7 linked regions of the Homo sapiens genome follow. The protein of the gene in region 1 purifies or fractionates together with the protein of each later gene. This does not show direct contact. Each region holds a gene or a part of one and is shown on either strand. Other genes may lie near its edges.

What was found.
Region 2: the proteins of CLN5 (region 1) and ARF4 purify together in Homo sapiens (affinity purification with mass spectrometry, with the first as the bait; one large-scale study listed by BioGRID). This does not show direct contact.
Region 3: the proteins of CLN5 (region 1) and CLN3 purify together in Homo sapiens (co-immunoprecipitation; one study listed by IntAct). This does not show direct contact.
Region 4: the proteins of CLN5 (region 1) and HMGCS1 purify together in Homo sapiens (affinity purification with mass spectrometry, with the first as the bait; one large-scale study listed by BioGRID). This does not show direct contact.
Region 5: the proteins of CLN5 (region 1) and CALU purify together in Homo sapiens (affinity purification with mass spectrometry, with the first as the bait; one large-scale study listed by BioGRID). This does not show direct contact.
Region 6: the proteins of CLN5 (region 1) and ARHGAP36 purify together in Homo sapiens (affinity purification with mass spectrometry, with the first as the bait; one large-scale study listed by BioGRID). This does not show direct contact.
Region 7: the proteins of CLN5 (region 1) and SLC25A13 purify together in Homo sapiens (affinity purification with mass spectrometry, with the first as the bait; one large-scale study listed by BioGRID). This does not show direct contact.

What each region holds. Positions count from the first base shown.
Region 1 is NC_000013.11:76,995,081-76,998,580, forward strand, and holds part of CLN5 (bis(monoacylglycero)phosphate synthase CLN5), read left to right. Parts: coding exon 1-148; intron 149-821; coding exon 822-1,047; intron 1,048-2,962; coding exon of another isoform or gene 2,963-2,991; exon of another isoform or gene 2,992-3,005; intron 3,006-3,500. UniProt on the Homo sapiens protein: Exhibits palmitoyl protein thioesterase (S-depalmitoylation) activity in vitro and most likely plays a role in protein S-depalmitoylation.
Region 2 is NC_000003.12:57,587,345-57,590,844, reverse strand, and holds part of ARF4 (ADP-ribosylation factor 4), read left to right. Parts: intron 1-3,500.
Region 3 is NC_000016.10:28,485,575-28,489,074, forward strand, and holds part of CLN3 (battenin), read right to left. Parts: intron 3,089-3,500; coding exon 3,017-3,088; intron 2,168-3,016; coding exon 2,088-2,167; intron 1,968-2,087; coding exon 1,882-1,967; intron 1,077-1,881; coding exon 1,004-1,076; intron 917-1,003; coding exon 773-916; intron 1-772.
Region 4 is NC_000005.10:43,296,413-43,299,912, forward strand, and holds part of HMGCS1 (hydroxymethylglutaryl-CoA synthase, cytoplasmic), read right to left. Parts: intron 2,564-3,500; 5' UTR 2,554-2,563; coding exon 2,106-2,553; intron 1,723-2,105; coding exon 1,597-1,722; intron 755-1,596; coding exon 590-754; intron 1-589. UniProt on the Homo sapiens protein: Catalyzes the condensation of acetyl-CoA with acetoacetyl-CoA to form HMG-CoA, which is converted by HMG-CoA reductase (HMGCR) into mevalonate, a precursor for cholesterol synthesis.
Region 5 is NC_000007.14:128,759,859-128,763,358, reverse strand, and holds part of CALU (calumenin isoform a precursor), read right to left. Parts: intron 1-3,500. UniProt on the Homo sapiens protein: Involved in regulation of vitamin K-dependent carboxylation of multiple N-terminal glutamate residues. Seems to inhibit gamma-carboxylase GGCX. Binds 7 calcium ions with a low affinity.
Region 6 is NC_000023.11:131,064,846-131,068,345, reverse strand, and holds part of ARHGAP36 (rho GTPase-activating protein 36 isoform 1 precursor), read right to left. Parts: intron 1-3,500. UniProt on the Homo sapiens protein: GTPase activator for the Rho-type GTPases by converting them to an inactive GDP-bound state.
Region 7 is NC_000007.14:96,315,599-96,319,098, forward strand, and holds part of SLC25A13 (electrogenic aspartate/glutamate antiporter SLC25A13, mitochondrial), read right to left. Parts: intron 1-3,500. UniProt on the Homo sapiens protein: Mitochondrial electrogenic aspartate/glutamate antiporter that favors efflux of aspartate and entry of glutamate and proton within the mitochondria as part of the malate-aspartate shuttle.

The sequences.
Region 1 (3,500 bases):
AAAACCTGATCCTTATTGTCAAGCTAAGTATACTTTCTGTCCAACTGGCTCACCTATCCCAGTTATGGAGGGTGATGATGACATTGAAGTTTTTCGATTACAAGCCCCAGTATGGGAATTTAAATATGGAGACCTCCTGGGACACTTGGTAAGGATGCATCTTGGTCTTATAACTTTGGTTAATTCAATGATTTGGTTATTAAGTTGATTTTTAAGGAGTAATCACTATTTAGATGGCTGACTTTAGATCATGTTGGTGTTTGTCTTAGTACATTTAAAATGAGTAGTCAAAAATAGTTACTATCAGATTTTGTAATCTTGACAACAACAAATGTAATCACCATTATCCATTGTAATATTATGAATCTGAAACCAGCTCCTGTACCTAGCTCCTGGAAGGTGAGAAGAGGCCCAGAAGTGGCAGGGCAGGCAGGTAACACCTCTTGATTTCCATACTCTGTTGTAGTCACTTTTCCAGGTTAACCCATCACCATGTGAGGTCTGTAGAGCTGCTTCCAGAGACTGGCATGGGGGCTCCTCACACTTATTCTAAGCTCTAAGGAAATTATCAGCTTGTCCACATAACATGCAGGCCTCCTATTTGAGATGAGCCAAATAGGGGTGTAGTGGCCAAAGCTGGGGTGGATGAGGGCCTGGAGTTTGGGGCCACAGAGTGGATATGACAGTAGCAGCATGGAAGAACAGCTGAACAGTTGTTCTACTTGATATGCATTTGTGATGTGCCACATTTTCTCCTATCAGGTTACCTGGACCCATGGTTGTGTCACAGTTGCTTTTATACATGTACTGTCTTTACACAGAAAATTATGCATGATGCCATTGGATTCAGAAGTACATTAACTGGCAAGAACTACACAATGGAATGGTATGAACTTTTCCAACTTGGCAACTGTACATTTCCCCATCTCCGACCTGAAATGGATGCCCCTTTCTGGTGTAATCAAGGCGCTGCCTGCTTTTTTGAGGGAATTGATGATGTTCACTGGAAGGAAAATGGGACATTAGTTCAAGTAGCAACTATATCAGGTAAGTTGTGAAAATATAGCAATATTTGATCATTGCATCAAAAACCAAATGAAAGAAATTGTTATACTTCCATTGAAACATTTCAGTAATGTTTTACTTAGAGGTCATTTGTAAAATGTACTTTTGGAACCATTAAACTTTGGGAATTTTTTTCATCTCTTATTTGTATTTTTTATTTATTTTATTTGAATAGGTTTGTGGGGAACTGGTTATGTTAAGTTACATGAATAAGTTCTTTAGTGGTGATTTCTGAGATTTTTGCGCACCCATCACCCGAGCAGTGTACACTGTACCCAATGTATAGTCTTTTATCCCTCACCCCTCTCCGACCCTTTTCCCCGACTTCCCAAAGTTAATCATTCTTATGCCTTTGCATCCTCATAGCTTAGCTCCCACTTACAAGTGAGAATACACAATGTTTGGTTTTCTATTCCTGAAGAGTTACTTCACTTGGATGGAATTGGAGACCATTATTCCAGGTTGCTGCAAATGCCATTATTTCATTCCTTTTTATGGCTGAGTAGTATTATTCCTTGGTATATATACACCACATTTTCTTTATCCACTCATTGATTGATGGGCATTTGAGCTGGTTCCATATTTTTGCAGTTGCAAATTGTGCTGCTATAAACATGCATGGGAAAGTATTTTTTGCGTATAATGAGTTCTCTTCCTTTGGGTAGATACCCAGTACTGGGATTGCTGGATCAAATGGCAGTTCTACTTTTAGTTCTTTAAGGAATCTCCACACTGTTTTCCATAGTGGTTGTACTAATTTACATTCCTAGCAGCAGAGAAGAAGTGTTCCCTTTCCCCCACATCCCGCCAATATCTATTTTTTTTTATTTTTTGATTATGGCCATTCTTGCAGGAGTGAGGCGGTATTACATTGTGGTTTTGATTTGCATTTCCCTGATCATTGCATTTCCCTGAGCATTTTCATGTTTCTTGGCCATTTGTATATCTTCTGAGAATTGTCTATTTGTGTCCTTAGCCACCCCCACCCCGCCTTTTTGTTGTTGTTGTTTGTTTGTTTGAGGTGGAGTTTTATTCTTGTCGCTCAGGCTGGAGTGCAATGACACAATCTCAGCTTGCTGCAACCTCCACCTCTTGGGTTCAAGCGATTCTCCAGCCTTAGCGTCCCAAGTAGCTGGGATTACAGGCGCCCGCCACCATGCCAAGCTAATTTTTGTATTTTTAGTAGAGATGGGGTTTCGCCATGTTGGCCAGCTGGTCTCAAACTCCTGACCTCAGGTCATCTGCCCACCTTGGCCTCCCAAAGTGCTGGGATTAAAGGTGTGAGCCACCACTCCCGGCCGTTAACCCACTTTTTGATGGGATTGTTTTTTTCTTGCTGATTTGAGTTCCTTGTAGATTCTGGATATTAGTCCTTTGTCAGATGTATAGATTGCAAAGATTTTCTCCCACTCTGTGGGTTGTCTATTTACTCTGCTGATTGTTCCTTTGGCTGTGCAGAAGCTTTTTAGTTTAATTAAGTCTCATCTATTTATATTTGTTTTTGTTGCATTTGCTTTTGGTGGAACCACTAAACTCTGACCCAAACTATTACTCATGCAGAACTTCACCTGTTGGTGATGAGTAGCTTATCTCTGATCTTTGAATGTTTCCCTAAAAATGCTCTTTTCCCATCATAAAAATGAATAAAATGATAAAACATTTTGTACAATTAAATTGGTCTTTCTAAACGAAATAGTAAGAGAAATCCATAAAATGCCTGATTAAAGGATATGTTAACTATATCTGAAAAAAATTTTAGTGATGATATTTTTATGTTGAAAAATAATAGCTACTAATATAGACTGGTTCTGGCACTGTTCTGAGTACTGTACATACATCACATCATTCATCATCACAACTTCTGGAGGTAGTAACTATTATTTTGCCTATTTTACAGATGGAGAAACTGAGGCACAGAGAGGTTAAAGTTACACAGCTTAGTAAGTGGGACTCCAACCCTGGCAGTTACGCCCCATTGCCCATTCTCCTAACTACTTTGATACATTGCCTCCCAAAATGTATATGATCTTATATTTGAGACCCTCTTGAGCAGTTTAAATATTTTATCTTTGAGATTTTTTTCTTCTTTTGGATGTATTGGAAAGTTGCTGAAAGTTGGAATTGTGTTGCAAGTGCTGCATTGTTGGTTAGTAATGAAAAGAGTTCAGCAATCCTTTCATTGGTAACTCCTTATGTGACTTGGGTCACATTTTATATCTTATTGGCCCGTTGCCTCATGTGCAAAATGGAGACAATATACCATAGCATTTGAGAAGTAAGGAGCTTGTCCATATGATTTATGAAGCATTACATTATAAATTGCTGTTCCCCAGAACAGTAGAAACATCTGAAATGAAAGCACTGTTGTGACAATAATTATTCAGTGAACCCCAGGACTTGAGGAAGTAATCATGCTTCCTATTTGTATAGCTCTT
Region 2 (3,500 bases), on another chromosome or scaffold:
TAGCTGGGCATGGTGGCGTGCCCCTGTAGACCCAGCTACTAGGGAGGCTGAGGTGGGAGGATTGCTGGAGCCCAGGAGTTTGAGGCTACAGTGAGCCATGTTTGCACCACTGCACTCCAGGCTGGGTGACAGATCGAGACCCTGTCTCAAAAAACAAATGTATATATATGTACACACACACACTTATAATTATGAAGGTATATTTCAAACTTGTAGATAATTTGAAAGATAAAGGAAAACATGAAAAATCTTTTTATCCATCTGAAAATACTCTTTTGTCTTTCCAGTCTTACTCCTTTCTGCAATATTTTTTTCTCCCTCAAAGTTGAGATCATTGGATCTAACTTTTTTCTTTTTTTGAGACGGAGTCTTGCTTTGTTGCCTAGGCTAGAGTGCAGTGGCGCAATCTCGGCTCACTACAGACTCCGCCTCCCGGGTTCAAGCGATTCTCCTGCCTCAGCCTCCCAAGTAGCTGGGATTACAGGCACCCGCCACTGCGCCCGGCTAATTTTTGTATTTTTTAGTAGAGACAGGGTTTCACCATCTTGGCCAGGCTGGTCTCAAACTCCTGACCTCATGATCCATCCACCTCAGCCTCCCAAAGTGCTGGGATTACAGGTGTGAGCCACTGCACCCGGCCTCAATTTTTCATCACTAATTATGATACTAGCTGTAGGTTTTTTATAGATGTTCTTTTTTTGTTTTTTGTTTTATTTATTTATTTATTTATTTATTTATTTATTTATTTATTTATTGAGACAGAGTCTTGGTCTGTTGCCCAGGCTGGAGTGCAGTGGCATGATCTCGACTCACTGCGCCTCCACCTCCCGGGTTCAAGCAATTCTCCTGCCTCAGCCTCCCGAGTAGCTGGGATTACAGGCGCCCGCCACCATGCCTGGCTAATTTTTGTATTTTTAGTAGAGATGGGGTTTCACCATGTTGGCCAGGCTGGTTTCAAACTCCTGGCCTCATGATCCACCCTCCTCGGCCTCCTAAAGTGCTGGGATTTCAGGTGTGAGCCACCGTGCCCGGCTGGATCTAACTTTTTAAATTTAAAATGTAAGTATTTCTTGCTGCCATAATTATGGGCAAAGGTTTGTTTTTTTGGGTTTTTTGTTTGTTTTTTTGAGACGGAGTCTCGCTTTGTTGCCCAGGCTGGAGTGCCGTGGCGCGGTATGGGCTCACTGTAACCTCCACCTCCCGGGTTCAAGCGATTCTCCTGCCTCAGCCTCCCAAGTAGCTGGGTTTACAGGCGCCAGCCACCACGCCTAGCTAATTTTTGTATTTTTAGTAGAGACTGGGTTTCACCACGTTGGCCAGGCTGGTCGCGAACTGCTGACCTCGTGATCCACCCACTTCAGCCTCCCAAAGTGCTGGGATTACAGGTGTGAGCCACGGGGCCCGGCCTTGTTTGTTTGAGACAGGATCTTGCTCTGTTGCTTACGCTGAATTGCAGTGGTGTGATCATGGCTCGCTGCAGCCTTGATCCCCTGGGCTCAAGGGATCCTCCTGCCTCAGCCTCCCACGTAGCTGGGAATATAGATGGGCACCACCCTGCCTAATTTTTGTTTGTTTTGAGACAGGGTCTCAATTCTGTTGCCCAGGCTGAAGCACAGTGGTGCGATCACAGCTCACTGCAGCCTTGACCTCCTGGGGTCAAGTGATCCTCCCATCTCAGCCTCACCCAGTAGCTGGGACTACAGGCATGTGCCATCACAACCGGCTAATTTTTTTTTTTTTTTGAGACGGAGTTTTGCTCCTGTTGCCCAGGTTGGAGTGTAATGGCGCGATCTCAGCTCACTGCGACCTCCGCCTCTCAGGTTCAAGCAATTCTCCTGCCTCAGCCTCCCGAGTAGCTGGGATTACAGGCATGTGCCACTACACCCAGCTAATTTTGTATTTTTAGTAGAGACGGGCTTTCTCCATGTTGGTCAGGCTGGTCTCTAATTCCTGACTTCAGGTGATCCACCTGCCTTGGCTTCCCAAAGTGCTGGGATTACAGGTGTGAGCCACTGTGCCTCACTCACACCTGGCTAATTTTTGTATTTTTTGTAGTGACAGGGTTTTGCCATGTTGTCCAGGCTGGTCACAAACTCCTGAGCTCAGGTCATCCACCTGCCTCAGCCTCCCAACATGCTGGGATTACAGGTGTGAGTAGAGACGGGCTTTCTCCATGTTGGTCAGGCTGGTCTCTGACTCCTGACTTCAGGTGATCCACCCGCCTTGGCTTCCCAAAGTGCTGGGATTACAGGTGTGAGCCACTGTGCCCCACTCACACCTGGCTAATTTTTGTATTTTTTGTAGTGACAGGGTTTTGCCATGTTGTCCAGGCTGGTCACAAACTCCTGAGCTCAGGTCATCCACCTGCCTCAGCCTCCCAACATGCTGGGATTACAGGTGTGAGCCACCATGCACAGCTTCCCAGCTAATTTACTTTTTCTTCTTTAAAGATGGATCTCGCTATGTTGACCAGGCTGGTTTCAAACTCCTGGGCTCAAGCGATCCGCCTGCCTCAGCCTCCCAAAGTGCTAGGATTACAGGTGTGAGTGACTGCCTGGCCAGCAAAGATTTCTGAGGTAGTTTTCCTGCTATAGTAACACTTTGGTCAAAGTGCAGGTCTAGTTAAGGAGAACAAGTATTCCAGTACATCTTTAAATACAGTTGCTTGTTTCTGGACACGGAGGGGAGGGAGACCATTGCTGGGCTATACAGATTAGTCTTATCTTGGCTAGTTGAAAATTGGTAATAGTTTTCATTTTGTGGAGAAATTTCATTGCCAAATATTGCAACATTAAGGAAATACATAAGAAATGACTGAAGTGGCTCAAAATTGTTGGACCAATATGTTTTTGAGTAAAGAACTATAAGTTTTAAGTGATGACTGTATATGTTTAATTCGTGCATTAAAGCTTATAAATACCTTTTTCAAAAACTCTTAATTTGCATTTATACAGCATTGTTATTTTTGATACAACTGCATAAGATACATTCTGTGTTGCTGTGAGCCATTAAACTGTTGTCTTGTAATTTATATTTAGAAAATAATTTGTGGATACTTAAAAGTCATTATGGGCGCATTATTTTTTCCCCTTGAATTCTGGGGTGACCTAGAAATGGTTGCATGATTTTGTAAACACTTCCCTTTTTAAAAAAGTAAAATGAGTATGTAAAATATTATATATTTAAAGCCCTCAAGCAGTCGTCTTCAAAAAGATACATCAGGAAATGTAAACAGCCCAACATTTTAATTAAAAAAAATCTGCTTGGACAATTTTTTTTCTCTTTTCATAAAAGTAATACATGATTTTTGGGTAAAAAAAAATTCCTATCAGTAGAGGAGCAAGGAAAATAATTATTCATACAGTATTCATACAAGCACATATAAAACCTATTAAAAGAAAACTTGGATTACCTACATGCTTTTGTATAATTTAAAATGATATAGTCATGATTTGTCTTGGATTTCTTCAATTCTTTTCTTTGTCAGTATTTTTGGATTT
Region 3 (3,500 bases), on another chromosome or scaffold:
AAAAAAAAAAAAAAAAAAAAAAAAAGGGAGTCGCCATGGTTCAGGCCTGTTGCCCTGGCACTCAGGCAGGCAAGGCTACACATTCGAGGCCAACCTGGTCAACACTGATTAAAAAAAAAAAAAAAAAAAAAAGGAACTAATCAAATAAAGTCCACCCTCATCCTACTTCTAATCACCTTGGGAACCACACTGTGCTGAATGCATTACCCTCATCACCTCCAAGGAAAGCAAGAACAACTGCCATTTGAGATATGGGGAAACTGAGGGTTCAGAGAGGTGGAGTAACTTGTTCAACGCTACAAAGCTAAAAAGTGGCAGCTCCAGGACTCACACCTGGGGCTATCAGAGTCCAGATTCCGCCTCCCTTCACAGCAAGGTAGGGACTTGAAGATTGCAATCATAATCAAGTTTTCTTTTCTTTCTTTTTTTTTTTTTCTTCCTGAGACAGAGTCTAACTCTGTCGCCCGGGCTGGAGTGCAATGGCACGATCTCGGCTCACTGCCACCACTGCCTCCGGGGTTCAAGCGATTCTCCTGCCTTAGCCTCCTGAGTAGTTGGGACTACAGGCACCCGCCACCACACCTGGCTAATTGTTGTATTTTTAGTAGAGACGGGGTTTCACCATGTTGGCCAGGCTGGTTTCCTGACCTTAGGCGATCTGCCCTCCTTGGCCTCCCAAAGTGCTGGGATTACAGGCGTGAGCCACCACACCCAGCCATGGCCAAGTTTTCTCTCCTTGGACCCCTCTCCCTCCCGGCTCAGGGCAGCTCACCTGGCCAGCAGCAGGGCAGGGATACCCAGCATGGACAGCAGGGTCTGCTGAGGGGAGAGGCCGGCCTGGGTGAGGCCCAGGTAGGACAGGGCCCCCAGCAGCCCAGCTCCCCCAGTCCCTGAGGACCACCAGGAGATCACGGCCCTGGGAAGGAGAACACAGGAACATTCAGGAGGACCTAGGCTGACCATGGGACAGCCTCTCCCCACACTCCCTGCTCCACCTGCTTACCTGGGGTAGAAGGCAGTGAGGGAGAGGAAGGTGACCTCCCCAAGGCCTGATGAGATGCTAGCGAAGACCACACCTGGGGGGAGGACAAGCACTGGGATGGTCACACCACACCTTGCCACACTGCCCAGGCCTCTAATGTGTCTGGCCATGGCCTCCTCAGTATCAGCTCATAGAGGCTCCAATAGATCCCATGCATAGGCCAGGTTCCAGGTCTGAAGCAGAGCCCCACTCCCCTGCGTGTCCCTTCATGGAGAGTGGCACCTCCATCCACCCAGTTATCAGACCAGGGGCAGACATGCACCCTTGATGTCTCTGCCCCTTCATCAGTCTTTTTCTTTTCTTTTCTTTTTGGAGACGGAGTCTCGCCCTGTCACCCAGGCTGGAGTACAGTGGCGTGATCTCGGCTCACTGCAACCTCTGCCTCCCAGGTTCAAGAGATTCTCCTGCCTCAGCCTCCCGAGTAGCTGGGATTACAGGCTCCTGCCACCACACCCAGCTAATTTTTGTATTTTTGGTAGAGACGGGGTTTCTCCATGTTGGCCAGGCTGGTTTCGAACTCCTGACCTCAGGTGATCTGCCTGCCTTGGCTTTCCAAAGTGCTGGGATTATAGGCATGAGTCACTGTGCCTGGTCCATCACAGAGTCTTGACTTTGTTCACCTCAATCTCCATCTAATTCATCCATTTTCTCCCATCTCCTCCACTGCCTACCCCTCCAAATTGTCCCAGTCTCCCATCGCCTACTGCTGATAGCCCTAGCAGGCTTCTAAGGGTGACAGAATGAATCCCTTTCCTCTGGGAGGCTGGGGAGACTCTTCCCACAAATGCTCTGATGTGGTTCCTCGGGGCTCCCCATCTGACACAGAACCACACACTCACCACACAGGCTGGTCCCCACAGAATGAGAAAAGGCAACCAGGACGAAGCTTCCAGCAGCACAAATCCCACTGACGAGAACCCGGGGGCTGAGGGGGTGAGAAGGGAAGGGAGGGGGAAGGTCGGTCTCTACTCTCAGCATCTCAGCCATCCCAGCCTCCCCTTTCTCAGCTCCTGCCCACCCTGCCTCCCACTACCCTCACCCAGACCTGTAGGGCAGCAGGTGAAGGCCAAGAGGAGCCAACAATTTGATGACGAGTGTGGGGAGGATGTCCGCCAGGAGCACAGCCTGGGACAGGAGAATAGAGTGAGACCGCAGAGCTTCCAGGGGACAACCCTCCCAACCACGTGGCCAAGGAGAGGCAGGAGCTGGCCAAACAGGCCTGCTACAAACACAGGCTCTGGAGTCAGGCACGCCTGGGTTCAAGTCTCAGCTCTCCCACTCCTTAGTTGTGTGTCAAGAGTTTATACTCTCTGAGCTTCAGTTTCCTCATCTGGAAAATGGGAATATCATAGCACCTAGCTCACAGGACTGCTGTGTGGCTTAAATGAGCTAATATATGGTGCAGACAGAAAGGACTCAGAAACTATATATATATATATTTTGAGAGTGAGTCTCATTCTGCCACCCAGGCTGGAGTGTAGTGGCTCGATCTTGGCTCACTACAACCTCCACCTCCTGGGTTCAAGTGATTCTCCTGCCTCAGCCTCCTGAGTAGCTGGGATTACAGGCGTGCACCACCATGCCTGGCTAATTTTTGTATTTTTAGTACAGATGGGGTTTCACCATGTTGGCCAGGCTGGTCTTGAACTCCTGGTCTCAAGTGATCCATCCGCCTCAGCCTCAGAAATTATATTAAGGTCTCAATTATTTTATATATATATATTTTTTAATTTTTTTCTTTAAGATGGGGGTCTCACTATACTGCCCAGGCTGGTCTCAAACTCCTAGGCTCAAGTGATCCTCCCACCTTGGTCTCCCAAAGTGCTGGGATTACAAGTGTGAGCCAGTGCGCCCAGCCCAGGTCTCAACTGTTTTAATCATGACAGTCCCAGCTGGGTAGTGAAGGGCTGGGAGTGGGGTCTATAGACCCAGGGGCCCTGGGTCAGGCAAGGACCAGGTGAGATGAGTACGCACAGCCGTAGAGACAGAGTTGCAGTCAAATCGTGATGAGCTGTTGTGGGGGATCGGCGTTGGGCCTGGGTCCACCTAATGGGAGAAAAGCATGTCTTTCACCCTGGAGGCAGAGGGATAGACACACAGAGCCTGGCTCCCGTCCCAGCTCTGCCTTCACTTGAAGGATGGCTTTGGGTCAGCAGTGACTGACTTCTCAGGACCTCAGCGTCTCTGCATGCACAATGAAGAGGGGGTTTCCATATGAGTCTCACACTACTAGACCACAGGCCACAGATGGCCCTGTAAATGGACTTTGTTTAGATAACACATTCAAGAGCTTTCTTTTTTTTGAGATGGTGTCTCACTCTGTTGCCCAAGCTAGAGTGCAGTGGTGTGATCTTGGCTCATTGCAACTTCCACCTCCTGGCTTCAAGCAATTCTCCTGCCTCAGCCTCCTGAATAGCTCAGACTACAGGTGTGTGCCACCACACCCAGGTAGTTTTTG
Region 4 (3,500 bases), on another chromosome or scaffold:
GATATTTGTCATTGAATATGATTTTTAACCCCTTCTCATAACCTCTAAAAAGCAAAGTTGGACTACAGAAAAAGTATACTTTATGTAATAATGTGTTATGATAGCATTAACTCAAATACTGTCCTTTCAGTGCCTCAACAAATTTCCAGATTAATGATAACAGTAAAAAAACAAATACAAATTCACAGGTCAAGTGCAAAAAGATTATTTTTGGGGTAAGATCACTTTAGTAATTCATTTTCATTAGCTTTCCCTGAATCACAGCTGTAGTCCAAAACCTTGTTAAAATACCTCTCTCAAAAGATGAACAAAATTCAACTTACCTTCTTTTCTCCACTTTGATTTTCTTACAAGGGGTAAACCGACCTAAATATTTTTGCAGAGATACACCTCAGTTCCAAAGTTTACCTCTTCTAGTAAATTACACTTTCCCAGAAACTATGGGAAAATGTTGTTTGGTGAATGAGGAATTAATGGTAAAAGGATATTAAATGAAGAATGCCCACAAAGTAGTTGCCTACCAAAGATACCTAGTACATTAGACTGCTCTCAACTCATACCAAAACCAAGGAAAATGGGTAAAACTTACCTTTCTGCCACTGGGCATGGATCTTTTTGCAGTAGACAGAATAGCAGCGGTCTAATGCACTGAGGTAGCACTGTATGGAGAGTTTTCCATCTACTATAGGATATTCAGATAGCATATCAGGCTTGTAAAAATCATAGGCATGTTGCATATGTGTCCCACGAAGCCCTATTAGAACCAAAAAGGAAGATGTCTATATATTTCTGCTTCTTGATGTCTGTATGTTAATAAGTATACTGCATTATCTAAGGACCTTCCTTAACTATCTGATCAATTCTCACCACTTACAGTAGAGAAATCGCAAGCTGAAGCCAATATAAGTGAAATGATACATAACAGTATCCATGGACAGTCCTAAGACTCCTTTGGTATACAACTTTCCATGTCAGTTTCATAACTCTAACAGTTCACAGTTACTCTACTACACTGAAGACAAATTAAAATTGCCAGTGACTATCAGCAAGTTACTATTTATCATTTGAACCCTACATTAACCCACTTCTCTGTAAAGTGGGGATGACACCACCTACCTCATAAAACTGCTATGAAGATTAAATACAGGCCAGGCATGGTGGCTTACGCCTGTAATCCCAGCACTTTGGGAGGTTGAGGGGGGCGGATCACCTGAGGTCAGGAATTCGATGCCAGCCTGGCTAACATGGTGAAACCCTGTTACTAAAAATACAAAAAATTAGCCAGGCATGGTGGTGTGTGCCTGCAATCCCAGCTACTCAGGAGGCTGAGGCAGGAGAATCACTTGAACCTGGGGGCAGAGGTTGCAGTGAGCCGAGATCGTGCCATTGCACTCCAGCTTGGGCAACAAGAGTGAAACTCGGTCTCAAAAAAAAAAAAAAAGAAAAAAAAACATAAATATGATAACACACATAAAGCTCTTAGCAAGTAGTACCTGCATTTAATGACCATTAAGTAAGCGACAGCTCCTACTTCTATTTTCAAATTTCTCAGCATATTGTGCTAAAAAAAACAAAAATGCTTTCCCAAGCACTTACCTCGTTCAAAAATTAAAGGAGCATTTGGCCCAATTAGCAGAGCTACTGCTCCAACTCCACCTGTAGGTCTAGCATTTCCTGTGGCATATACAGCAATATCTCCTGCAACTACCAGGGCATACCGTCCTGAAAAATATTTTTTGTTATTTCACAAGAAGGAATTCAACACTATAACCAAACATGGAAACTGAAGTCTGTTATATTTTCCCCAGAATATGCTTTTCCCTTCTTTGATAAAGAAAGAAAATGCTCTAATTTTTTTTTAAAATTCATCTGCCAAGGCTCTGTCATCCATCTGACTAAATTTTGAATAGACCATTTGTCCTACAAGATAAGATAACCAATTCACAATTCGGATAATGACAGACAGGTAAAATATCTTTCTTAATATATCCAAACAAGGACAAATTACAAAAGTTTGCGTATTGCATTAATTAAAGTGTCATCTGGGTCTATTGAACCTTAGAAAAAAATTTTGGGGGACGGCGGGGAATAGGCATGTAACATACCATCCCAAGAGCTGGACTCAATCCAGTTAACAGCATTGAAGACAGCAGCTGTGCCTCCATAGCATGCATTAGTTGTGTCGATTCCTTCTATATCTGTATTCCCAGACTCTTCAAACAGCTGCATCAAATTAGTCTTCACAGACTTTGATTTGTCGATGATTGTCTCTGTTCCAACTTCCAGCCGCCCAATGCAATCATAGGAAAGGTTATTTCTCTCCATAAGATTCTGAACCACAGTCATGCAAAGAGAGTTAATATCTTCTCTATCTGTGCAGAAGCCCATCTTGGCCTGGCCCAAGCCAATGGTATACTTTCCAGCATCTACACCATCATATTTTTCCAACTCTGCTTGATCAACATATTGAGAAGGAAAATAGATCTCAAGGGCAACAATTCCCACATCTTTTGGCCAGCAAGCTTCTGCATTCAAAGGAAGTGATCCAGGCATGGTGAAAGAGCTTTAGAAAGGAGAAACAGAAAAAAAATTGTTTTAGGTTATAAGTTGCTGGTTTTCAACTTTGAAATTGAGAAATAGATATTAAGAGTTTAGCAATCACCTGAAGTATTAGTTTCTTTAAGTTTAGTATTTAGGGCACTCAATTGTGTACATGTGAAGTAGCAATTATTATATGAATGGAATATTATCATTTAAAATTATAGTCTTTTAGAAAGGCTTCCATTTTATTCAAAATTGGGCATCTCTAGATTTAAAACATGATTATTAGAGGTAAACAACACTCAAATAAGATTTTCTACATTGTAAAGAACTGTAAGATAAAATACAATGATAATTTAGAAATATGGCTGACAAATCAGAATTACCTGACCACCCGAAAGTTTTAATAAATTAGGCCGGGCGTGGTGGCTCATGCCTGTAATCTCAGCACTTTGGGAGGCTGAGGCAGGCGGATCACAAGGTCAGGAGATCGAGACCATCCTGGCTAACATGGTGAAACCCCGTCTCTACTAAAAATACAAAAGAATTAGCCGGGCGTGGTGGCAGATGCCTGTAGCCCCAGCTACTCAGGAGGCTGAGGCAGGAGAATGGCGTGAACCCGGGAGGAGGAGCTTGCAGTGAGCAGAGATCATGTTACTGCACTCCAGCCTGGGTGACAGAGCAAGACTCCGTCTCAAAAAAAAAAAAAGAAAAAGTAAAAATCAATCAATCAATCAATCAATCAATCATGTATTCATCATAGATAAACCAGTCCTCTTTTAAAAAAGGGACTAAAAAGTAGTGTCTAGATTTACTTACCAATAGCAACAAAAATCACTAGCTACTCAAGACCATTGTTGGGCATTTAACTTACCAGAGCTTCAGCTTCTTTAACAGGTTGTATTAGTCAGGAAAAGAAAAATTACTATAGATATTTCAAACAGAGGGGAGTTTTAATG
Region 5 (3,500 bases), on another chromosome or scaffold:
CGGGGTTTCACCAGGTTGGTCAGGCTGGTGTCTAACTCCTGACCTTGTGATCCGCCCACCTCAGCCTCCCAAAGTGTTGGGATTACAGGCATGAGCCACCATGCTCGGCCGAATTTCTATTTTTAAAAGACTCAGTCTATTTGATGATTTGAAGGTATTATTAATTTTCTTGGGTTGACATTATCTTTAAAAAAATGTTTTTAGAAACACATATATATTTTAGACATATATACCTCAATGTTTACAGATGAAATGACATAATGATTGGGATTTACTTCAAAGTAAGAAGGAAGCAAGGAAGTGGATGTGGCTGAGAAAAAACTGGCTGTAAGTTGATTGTTGTTGAGGTTAGGCATAGGTACATGGGGATTCATTATACTATTCTAATTTGGGGGCAGGTGCAGTGGCTCACACTTGTAATCCCAGCACTTTGGGAGGCTAAGGTGGTCAGATCACTTGAGGCCAGGAGTTCAAGATCACCCTGGCCAACATGGTGAAACCCCGCCTCTATTAAAAATACAAAAATTAGCCAGGTGTGGTGGTGCATGCCTGTAATCCCAACTACTCAGGAGGCTGAGGCACAAGAATCGCCTGAACCTGGGAGGCAGAGATTGTAGTGAGTGGAGATCACGCCACTGCACTCCAGCCTGGGTGACAGAGCAAGACTGTCTCAAAAAAAACATAAATAAATAAACAAATAAGTTGTGTACGTCTGCAATGCTCTATAATAAATTTTAAAAATAAAAATAATTATCAGCACAACTTTGGGTGTTTTTTTTTTTCTTTCCCTATGTTTCCACAGGCACTGATGGGGCTTCTTTTTAATGCTAAATTTATGAGGCGAAGAACTTTGTTTCTTCATGATCTCCTTCAACAGGGCACTAGAAGCTGAAAGATACTGTTTGGGAGAATTTTAGATTTACAAAGCCCAGCATCCCAGATGTAAAAGTGTTTGCATTAGTTACTGACTTGTAAAAAAAAAAAAAAAAAGCACACATGCACAAGATAGTTTTGGTAGCTTCAAAATATAACTCCTCTGCCCTTGAATCTATATGATACACAGGGAGACAGAAATATCTCCTTATTTGGCCTCAATGCTTGATAAGTGATGTAGTTAACAGTTATAAAAATTCCTCTCCTTGGGAGGTTCAAATGAGTTCCTCAGTTTTAGCAATGGCAATAAAATGGCAAAAGCCAAGAATAAAAAGATAAATCATTTAAAAGTAGAAAACCCTAGTAACATCAACGTGGGCTCAGTAAATGCACCTAGGCACTTATCCACTGTCCTGATAAACTTCTCCAAAAAAAAAAAAAATCAGTTTAGGAAAACATCCATCCTATCTTCCATTGCTCATCCTTCTTTAAAAAGTTCAAAGTATGCCACTGAACCTAAGAAAAGGGAGGTAAACAGTCAAGGAGTAATTCAATTGGAATAACTCTAGCATGTAAACAACAGGTATGATAAGACAACATCTAAGTAAAGCAGTGACTTGCTCCATACAGTTTAATGACAGGTGATAGAGGTAAGGATTAAGTCTTCCTTTCAGGCTTCAAATAAACATTTCAGGTAACTATCAGAGGTCTAAAAACAAACGGGCTTATCTGAAACACAAAACCAATGGTGTGCTAGAATAAGTTATTACAAATGACAATAAGTATGTGAAATATTAAAATATCTAATATCTTTCTAAACAAAGTATTTGTAACAATGACATTTGTAGTAACAGTCTTATACTTTCCATCTTTACTCACTTTTCTAAAGAGATGGAGTCTCGCTATGTTGCTCAGGTTGGAGTACAATTGCTATCCACAGGCACAACCTCACTACTAATCAGCACAGTTTTGACCTGCTCTGATTCTGTCCCGGGCCGGTTCACTCCTCCTTAGGCAACCTGGTGATCCTCTGCTCCCAGGAGGTCACCATATTGATGATGAACTTGTGACTATAGTCCAGACTCTTGGACTCAAGTGATCCTCCTGCCTCAGCCTCCCAAGTAACCGGGTATGCCACCACACCCAGCTCCTTTACTCATTTTAATTTCTGTCACAGTAATTGGGAAACAATTTGCTCAACTACTTGGTAAGAAAGACAGCTTTTTTTTTTTAAAGCAATGAGAATATCTTAAAATTAGTCTGATGATAATAAAACAGAGCTTTACTTGGGAGAAATTAGCCTTGAAGGTGTGACATCCAAAACAATTTTTTTAAAAAAATTTAGACAACTAAAAAGGGAAATGTCAAAAGGGAGAAACTTAAAAAACAAAAGGAAAGTAGTCAGAGAATCAGAGAGAAAATATGAACAGAACACAGTAAAAAGGAATGGCTACAAGAGGGATCAGCAACTCCCCGTCATTTATTTATCCATCTTTTAATCTATTCCCTATCTCCTTTCCCTGGGTTTCCCTATGTCAGTCTGGGCTCCCTGCAACTCTTTTTTTTGTTTGTTTGTTTGAGACGGAGTCTCGCTCTGTAGCCCCGGCTGGAGTGCAGTGGCATGATCTCAGCTTACTGCAAGCTCTGCCTCCTGGGTTCATGCCATTCTCCTGCCTCAGCGTCCCCAGTAGCTGGGACTACAGGCGCCTGCCACTACACCCGGCTAATTTTTTGTATTTTTAGTAGAGACAGGGTTTCACTGTGTTAGCCAGGATGGTCTCGATCTCCTGACCTTGTGATCCGCCCGCCTCGGCCTCCCAAAGTGCTGGGATTACAGGCGTGAGCCACCGTGCCCAGCCCCCTGCAACTCTTTACCATCAGTTCCATAGAGCATGCAGGATACACTATATCTGTGCTGTTGAGGATGGTAGCCACAGGTGCTTATTAAGCACTTGAAATGTGGCTGGGATGTGCTTTAAGTATTAAAAAAAAACCCTCAATAATTTACATTAAGTGGAAATTATAGAGTTTTAGAATATTAGGTTAAATAACTACTGAAATTTCATCTGTTTCTTTTTACTTTTTAATGTGGCTATTAGAAAAGTTAAAATTACATATGGGGCTCACATTTATATTTTGATTGGGCAATGTGGCTACGGATACTTTATCACAACCCACTATCACACTGGTCTGGTTAATGATCTGGTGACAGCTAATGAGCTAGTGAGAATTGACCCTTGGAGTAAATTGTTTCTATGGGCAAATACATCTTTCTTTCTTTCTTTTTTTGAGACAGTTTCACTCTTGTTGCCCAGGCTGGAGTGCAATGGCGTGTTCTCGGCTCACTGCAACCTCCGCCTCCTGGGTTCAAGCGATTCTTCTGCCTCAGCCTCCTGAGTAGCTGGGATTACAGGCGCCCGCCACCACACCCAACTAATTTTTTTGTATTTTTAGTAGAGACGGGGTTTCCCCATGTTGGCCAGGCTGGACTTGGACTCCTGACCTCAGGTGATCTGCCCGCCTCGGCCTCCCAGTGTTGGGATTACAGGCATGAGCCACTGTGCCCAGCCAGCAAATACACCTTTCAAAGCTTCTCAGCTTTTCTAAGAAAAACACTAAAAGCAGAG
Region 6 (3,500 bases), on another chromosome or scaffold:
CCTCCTTTTTTCCCCTCCTCTCCTCCTCGCCCCCTTCTCTTCCGCCCAAAGGGAAGGCGGGGGCGGGCTGTGTATGTATGTATGTATGCATGTAAGCGTGTGTGCGCGCGCGCGGGTGCGGTAGATCTGTGTGTGCGTTCGGTGTGTGGCCGGGTGTGGGGGGTGTGTGCGCGGAGCACGTTTTAGCTGGAGTGCTTGGTGTGGTGTGTATTTGGTTTGCGCTTTGACATGCAGCATGTGTTTGTGTGTGCACGCTTATAGGTTGTATGTTTCTGCCCGATTATAGTGGGATTATGTGGGTGCGGTTTGAAGGTGGGTGTGTGCTGTTCCTGCCGGGGTTTGTGGTCGTGCTGTGGTGAGTGTATATGTGTGTGCAATGTGTGGATGTGTGTGTGCCCGTTGAAGCTTGTGTGCATATGTGTGGAGTGTGTTTATGCTTAGATGCAGTGTGTCAATGTGGGTTTACAGGTGGTGTCTGTTGAACTGTGTAGTGTGTGAATGTGTGCGTGTGCAAGATTTCTCTATAAGTCAATCTACTTGAGATGTGTGTTCAAAGGTTTATGCATGTGAGGGTGCGGTGTGTGTCTTTTGGTGTGATGTTCTCATGTGTGTGGTGTGGACGCATGTGGTCAGCTTACGTGCTTGGATGAAGGGGTTGTGTGTGTCTTGAAGGGGGATTGCCGCGTAAGTGTATGGGTGCGGTGTGTGAGAGTACAGGGTTGTCTAAAAGAACCCAAGTGACCGTGTGTGTGGTTGGGGGCGGGGACGAGTGGGACGTTGGGCTGGGACTGAGAGAAGAAAGGAAGTAGGGGCCGCGACCCCGGCAGGGGTTCCCGCTGGTCTGATCTTCACCGTGGGGGTTCGCCTGCCCGCCCACCTCTGTGTCGGCAAGGCCCGCTGGGGCAGGGTGTGAATGTACCTGGCTGCTTAAAGGAAAGAAGAGGAGGGCACCGCACGTGATTGGCCAGGTAGGGCGCCTAGGGCGCGATACAGGGGCTGGTGGGAGTAAGCTGGAAAGATTCTTGGTCTCTGACCTGACACCCCTCCCCCGCCCAGGAGATCCCAGCTGGTGCCTAGCTGAGCCCAACTATTTGCTCAGGGCCTGGCTGTTTCACACCTTTTTGGCTTTGTGTGGGCAGATCCAGTTGCCTGGAAGCCCTTTCCCCTTGGGCCTTGTGACAAACTCCTACTTATTTTTTTTAAACCTAACTCCAGAATCACAAAACTTTCTCTGCTCTTCTGTACTTTTCCCTCTCAACTGAGGGCTCGCTTCTTTGAGCCACCACAATTACACCCTTCATACTTCTCATGCCATGATCATACATAACTGCAATCATTTCTTTCCCTTTTTAAACTCTGAACGGCTGTAGAGAATACCTGGTATGTAGCAAGGATAGTTGTAATAATAATAATAATGTTGCCATTTGTTAAGTACCTACTGTGTACTGGGCATTGTGCTAAGTGTTCTGACATGCATTATCTCCTTGGGTCCTTACAATGATCCTGTAAGGTAGACAGAGCTATAATTATTGCTATTTTTACACTTCATACATCAGGCTCAGAGTAGTTAAGTAATTTCCCCAAGATCACACAGACCCTAGGAGGCTGAGCTGGTATTTGAACTCAGGTCTACCATATTTCCTAAACCTGTATTACATACCAGGTGGCTTTACTAAGAGTCCCCTGATTCCTGCTAGACATTGAAGTTTCTATCAAACATTATCATTTCTCTACAAATCTTTCTTTTGAGTTTACTGACAGCACCAAGAGTACTCATCATAATTACTGTCTTTGTCTCCCAGACAGCGGATACTTTCTCCACCTAATTACCTGCTTTGTTGATACTTCAAAATCTGTAATTACTCTAGGCACAAGTGCACCTCACTAGCTCCAGTTCTGGGAGCTCTCCGTAGGCTGGTGCTGAAAGAAAGAGTTGAAAATGAACATTTTCTAGCCACAGGGTCAGGGGATTTGGGTATGGAGGGAAATGGAGGTGAAGAATCAGGGTGGAGTAACAGAATGATTTCACAGCTCCCCCAGACCCATTTTTACAATATCACTACCAGAAGTTGGTATATGGCGAATTTCAAATAGAGCAAGCATCTGCATACCAAACTGCATGTAGAAAAACAAGCAGAGCCTCTCCCTCAGAAAAGATTACTGAATGGACCCCATTTTATATTATTCATGAGTCGGGGGGCACTGCACTTGCCTAATGGGGCTCATGCTGCTCTAATGCCTTCCAAGCAGCCTCATCTGAGAAACCCAAATTAAAGCAATACATCGCATTTTGGGGAACACATTTATGGGGGGGCATGATGTCATCCCAGTCACAGCTAAAGGGCCTCTGGAAGCTCTAGCTCCCAGCTTAGCCCCCAGGGAACCAGCCTAGACTGCTGCAAAGAGGTCAGGGGGTGGATAGAGAGGGACAATTCAACAGTGGTGAGTCACTTCGCCACTTTTCAGGGGGAAAGTGAGAAGCACGATTTAAATTGCCACTGTTATTATTGTGCCCTTTCATCTGGCACAAATGAGCCTGGTGCGTGGATGAAAAGCAGTTGGAACATCCATAAAGCTTCCCCCCAGCTGGGCCTGGGTCAGCACCTCATCCTGGGTGGGCACAGAAAGCATTGCCTAAAGTATTATGTAGCCAGAAAGTATCCTTTGGAGGGGGAAAGGGAGCCTAAATACGTCAGTCTTACTCAGGCAGGGCATAGACCACCTGAAGCCCCTTGGTTTCATTAAACTTAAATCCATACAAGGTGTTCAGGCAAACTTTGGTATCTCCCAGCATCTGGTCTCAGATGCTCAGCTTTCCTGCTGCTGTGGGGCCAATCTGACACCTCCTCATTCTCCTCTGAATATACTGGCTTCACTTCCACCTCCTCACAGCTGTTCATGTGAGGCCTCTCTTCCTCAGAGGTTCTGCCCCTGCTTCTCAACACCAGCACACACACATACGCACAAATGCATAAACACATCGCTAGACTACCCATCTAAATCCTGTTGTGTAAGTTCCACTTTGGTTCATAAAGACCATCTGGTTCACTCCAGCTCAGTGTTCCTGCCTGTGCAATGGAAGACAAACTTCAACTCTGAAGAAGCCAAAAGCTCCAGGCTATGTCTCCAAAGATGCAGTCCTGGGCCAGGGGCTATTAGAATAATTGAAAGCTATCCTTCTCTAATGCCCCCCACCCATATAATTGGGGCAATAAGAGGGGCTATCAGAATCCCTATCAATATGCCACCACCATGGGATGGACACACAGACACGCAGACACACACACACACACACACACACACAAACACACACACACTTCCTTGGAGCTTAAAATCGCTGTCATAAGTCTCTCTCTCTCTTTGGAGTTCAGAAAATGTGTTCCCATAACATGAAGATTATATGGGGAATTGTAAAGGTGAAAATGCTTTACTAACTCCCATTACTGTCCAATATAAACAGAGATTTGTTTGATTTCACCCTAAATATAAGAATCTGGAGG
Region 7 (3,500 bases), on another chromosome or scaffold:
AAGGCCATCCAGCTCCAACAAGATAAGAACCCCTAAAACCCAAACAGTGGAGCCATAGATATTTGTTTTAATAATCATCATCATGGTAGCATAAAAACAACTCAAACCTTCTTTCCTCCATTCCTAGCACAAAAACTGATTTGTTTTATTATGATATCACCAAATACTTAGTAGAGTTTTTACATAGGGGAGAAAAAACCCTGCCATTTGAAGAATATCTTTAATAACCTCAATATATTTTATCCTCAATGACAAACCTCTGAAGAGGGTTTTATGATGGGTGAACAATGTGGAAGACATGGAGGTTAAATATACAGCCCAAAGCCTGGGCGACATAGCAAGACCCCCGTCTCTACAAAAAAAAAAAAAATTTTAATTAGCTGGGTGTGGTGGTGTGTGCCTGAGGTCCTAGCTATTCAGGAGGCTGCGGTGGGAGGATCTCTTGTATCCACGAGGTCTAGGCTAGAGTGAGCAATAATCACACCACTGCACTTCCACCTGGGTGAGAGAGTGAGACCCTGTCCCAAATATATATATATATATTATAGTCCAAATCCTAATGGAAACTGGATTAAAGGTATATGACAGTGGTGACAGTTACACAACTCTGTGCATATATTGAAAACCAATAAATCATATGCTTTAAATGGGTAAATTGTATAGTACTTGAATTATATCTCAATAAAGCAATTAAATAAAAGGTATATGACAATTCCTGTCCTGCAGGGATTTGCGATCTGGTTGGAGAGATGAGAAATACACTTAATAAACACTGAAATGAAGCATATACAGAGTGACAAAGGTGTTCTAAGATAAGAACTACTGGACTGGGATGATCAGGAAATATACACATCCATACCCGATGGCATGTGAACTCTCACACATACACCTTCGCAAATGGAACTCTTGGTAAGACCTGGGAGAGCAGCGCAGAGGTTAAGAGCAGAGACTCTGAAGACACATTGGCAAGGTTCAAATCAAGACTGTAGCACTTACCTGTTGCACAAGCGTGAGAAATTACTTAACCTCCCCTAACTCAGTTTTCTCACCTGTAAGTTGAAGTCAAAAACAGAAAGCACCTACTTCTTAGAATTAAGAAAATTAATTGAGTTACTATTTGTAAGGCTCTTGGAAAAGTACCTGGCATGCAAAAAGCACTAGGTAAGGCAGTTCTCAAATAAAAGTCTGGTTTACACTGAGACACCTACCCCTCTCCTAAGTCATCTCCCACACCTCTCCCATATACTTTATTCTCCACCACACTAAACTACCAGGCACACATGGTGGACAGAGTGAGGCCACAGCTGCTGGAGCCAGACTGGCAGGATTTGAACCCCAGCTCGATAATTTCCTAATTATCCGATCTTTTTTATTTTATTTTATTTTTTTGAGACAGAGTCTTGCTCTGTCACCCAGGCTGGAGTGCAATGGCACGACGTCAGCTCACTGCAACCTCCGCCTCCCAGGTTGAAGCAAATTCCCCTACCTCAGCCTCCCGAGCAGCTGAGATTACAAGAATGCACCACTATGCCCGGCTAATTGTTTCCTATTTTTAGTAGAGATGGGCCAGACTGGCCAGGCTGGTCTCAAATTCCTGACCTGAGGTGATTCACCTGCCTCGGCCTCCCAAGGTGCTGGGATTATAGGTGTGAGCCACCGTACCCAGCCATACTTATCAGATCTTAGGCCACTAACATCACCTCTTGGTATCTCAGAGCCTTCATCTATAAAAAAAGGATGATAGTAACTAACTCAAAAGGCTGAGGCATTAAATGAATCAACAACGAAACACAGTTGGAACTGAATTTTAAATGAATCAACAATGAAACACATTTGGAACTGAATTTGGTATCTAGTAAGCGCTCAGTAAGTGTCAGCTGCTTTTAGTTTTTATTACCTGCTGTTAACTAAATGTAGCCTGTGCTCTCACCTCCCAGCCCTTCATTTGTTTCCAACCACTGGATTGGATCTTTACTCTTCCCCATCCATTCCTTCTGAAATACTAGCAATTTTCAGAAGACTTCCCTCATCTCCTCAGAAATGGGCTCTTCTCCTACTGCTCCCACAAACCTTGTAGTGGGAGCATTTCCATCAGAGAACTTAGCCCCCTGGAATGGTTTTGGTTTTCTTGAACATCAAAATGGAGTCCAATTCATTTTATTTATTTTATTCTATTTTATTTTATTTTATTATTTTATTTTACTTTATTTTATTTTTTTTTGAGACAGGATCTCGTTCTGTAACCCAAGCTGGAGTACAGTGGTGCTATCTCAGCTCACTGCAACCTCTGCCTTCTGGGCTCAAGTGATCCTCCTGCCTTAGCCTCCCAAGTAGCCGGGACCACAGATGCGTGCCACCATGCCCAGCTAACAATTCATTTTAGTATTCTCAATTTTGTCCCATTTGCAACACTGGAAAGAACACAATACACATAAATGAATCAATGATCACAGCAACAACTCATCCAAGAATGAAAAGTCAATACAAAGTGTACTAGTCCTACAGACCAAATTGTCTTTATTATTAATGCTTTAATGTGCCCCCAAATTTCCTTCTTTTGGTTCTAGGCTAATATTGGTCTGTGTTCAGTTTTACCCCAGAACATCTCACAGGTCTGAACTCAAGGGAGCATATTCTAACTTTTAGTAGGTTCATATAGGTTAATTACATCATTCGTAACGCATAAATTTAACCAATGACGAAGAAGAAAGCTCTCCTTTAACCAAGAAAAGGGCAGAGACGAAGAAAAGGGTGACCTCTCAATTACCACCTTTTAAAACTGTTTTTTTATGGCAGTTTTGGGAAATGTTTAAAAGAAATATTCAAACAACGCAAACAGTACAGGCAGATCTAACAAGGGAACCCACAAGGATTATTCCTACAAACGTAGGCAGCAAGAGAATGGACACTTTTTGAGATAATCTCAGAATACTAAGAGTTTTAGATTAATGTTCATTCACGAAAGAAAACAAACACTTCTTGAACCATTAACTAGTAATCTTCATAGCAAAATTCAAAATAAAAAGCAGCCAAAGACTAGATTCTCCATCTCCCCATTAAAACTATTTAAAGGAAGGTCATGAATAATTAGCTGTATTTAAATAAGTATAAAGACCAAAGAAAGAAACAGATCAGAAAACTAATTGCTAGTTGTGGCTACATCTATCCAGAAAATACCAAATCTGCTTAAATATTCAAACAATTTGTCACAGTGAGTGTAGTGAGTGTTGGAATTCTCACAGTTGCTGAGTCCCCAGAGTCTCAGCCCAATTTCCTAACAGTCCATTGAGGTGAAGTCCTCTCCTATCCAGGCTCCTCAACTTTTAAGAGGGAATGCCAACCCTACCCCTATGGCTCTGTGTTCAGCTGGCAACATGGAATAGCTATGCTCCAGGGAAAAAGCAAGGAGCACAGCCTTTAACTCAGGCTGCCAACAGAATCAACCGATAAAGGTGATGCCCAAAGGCAGTTCAATAAGGGACATTCTTGGAATAAGTTAG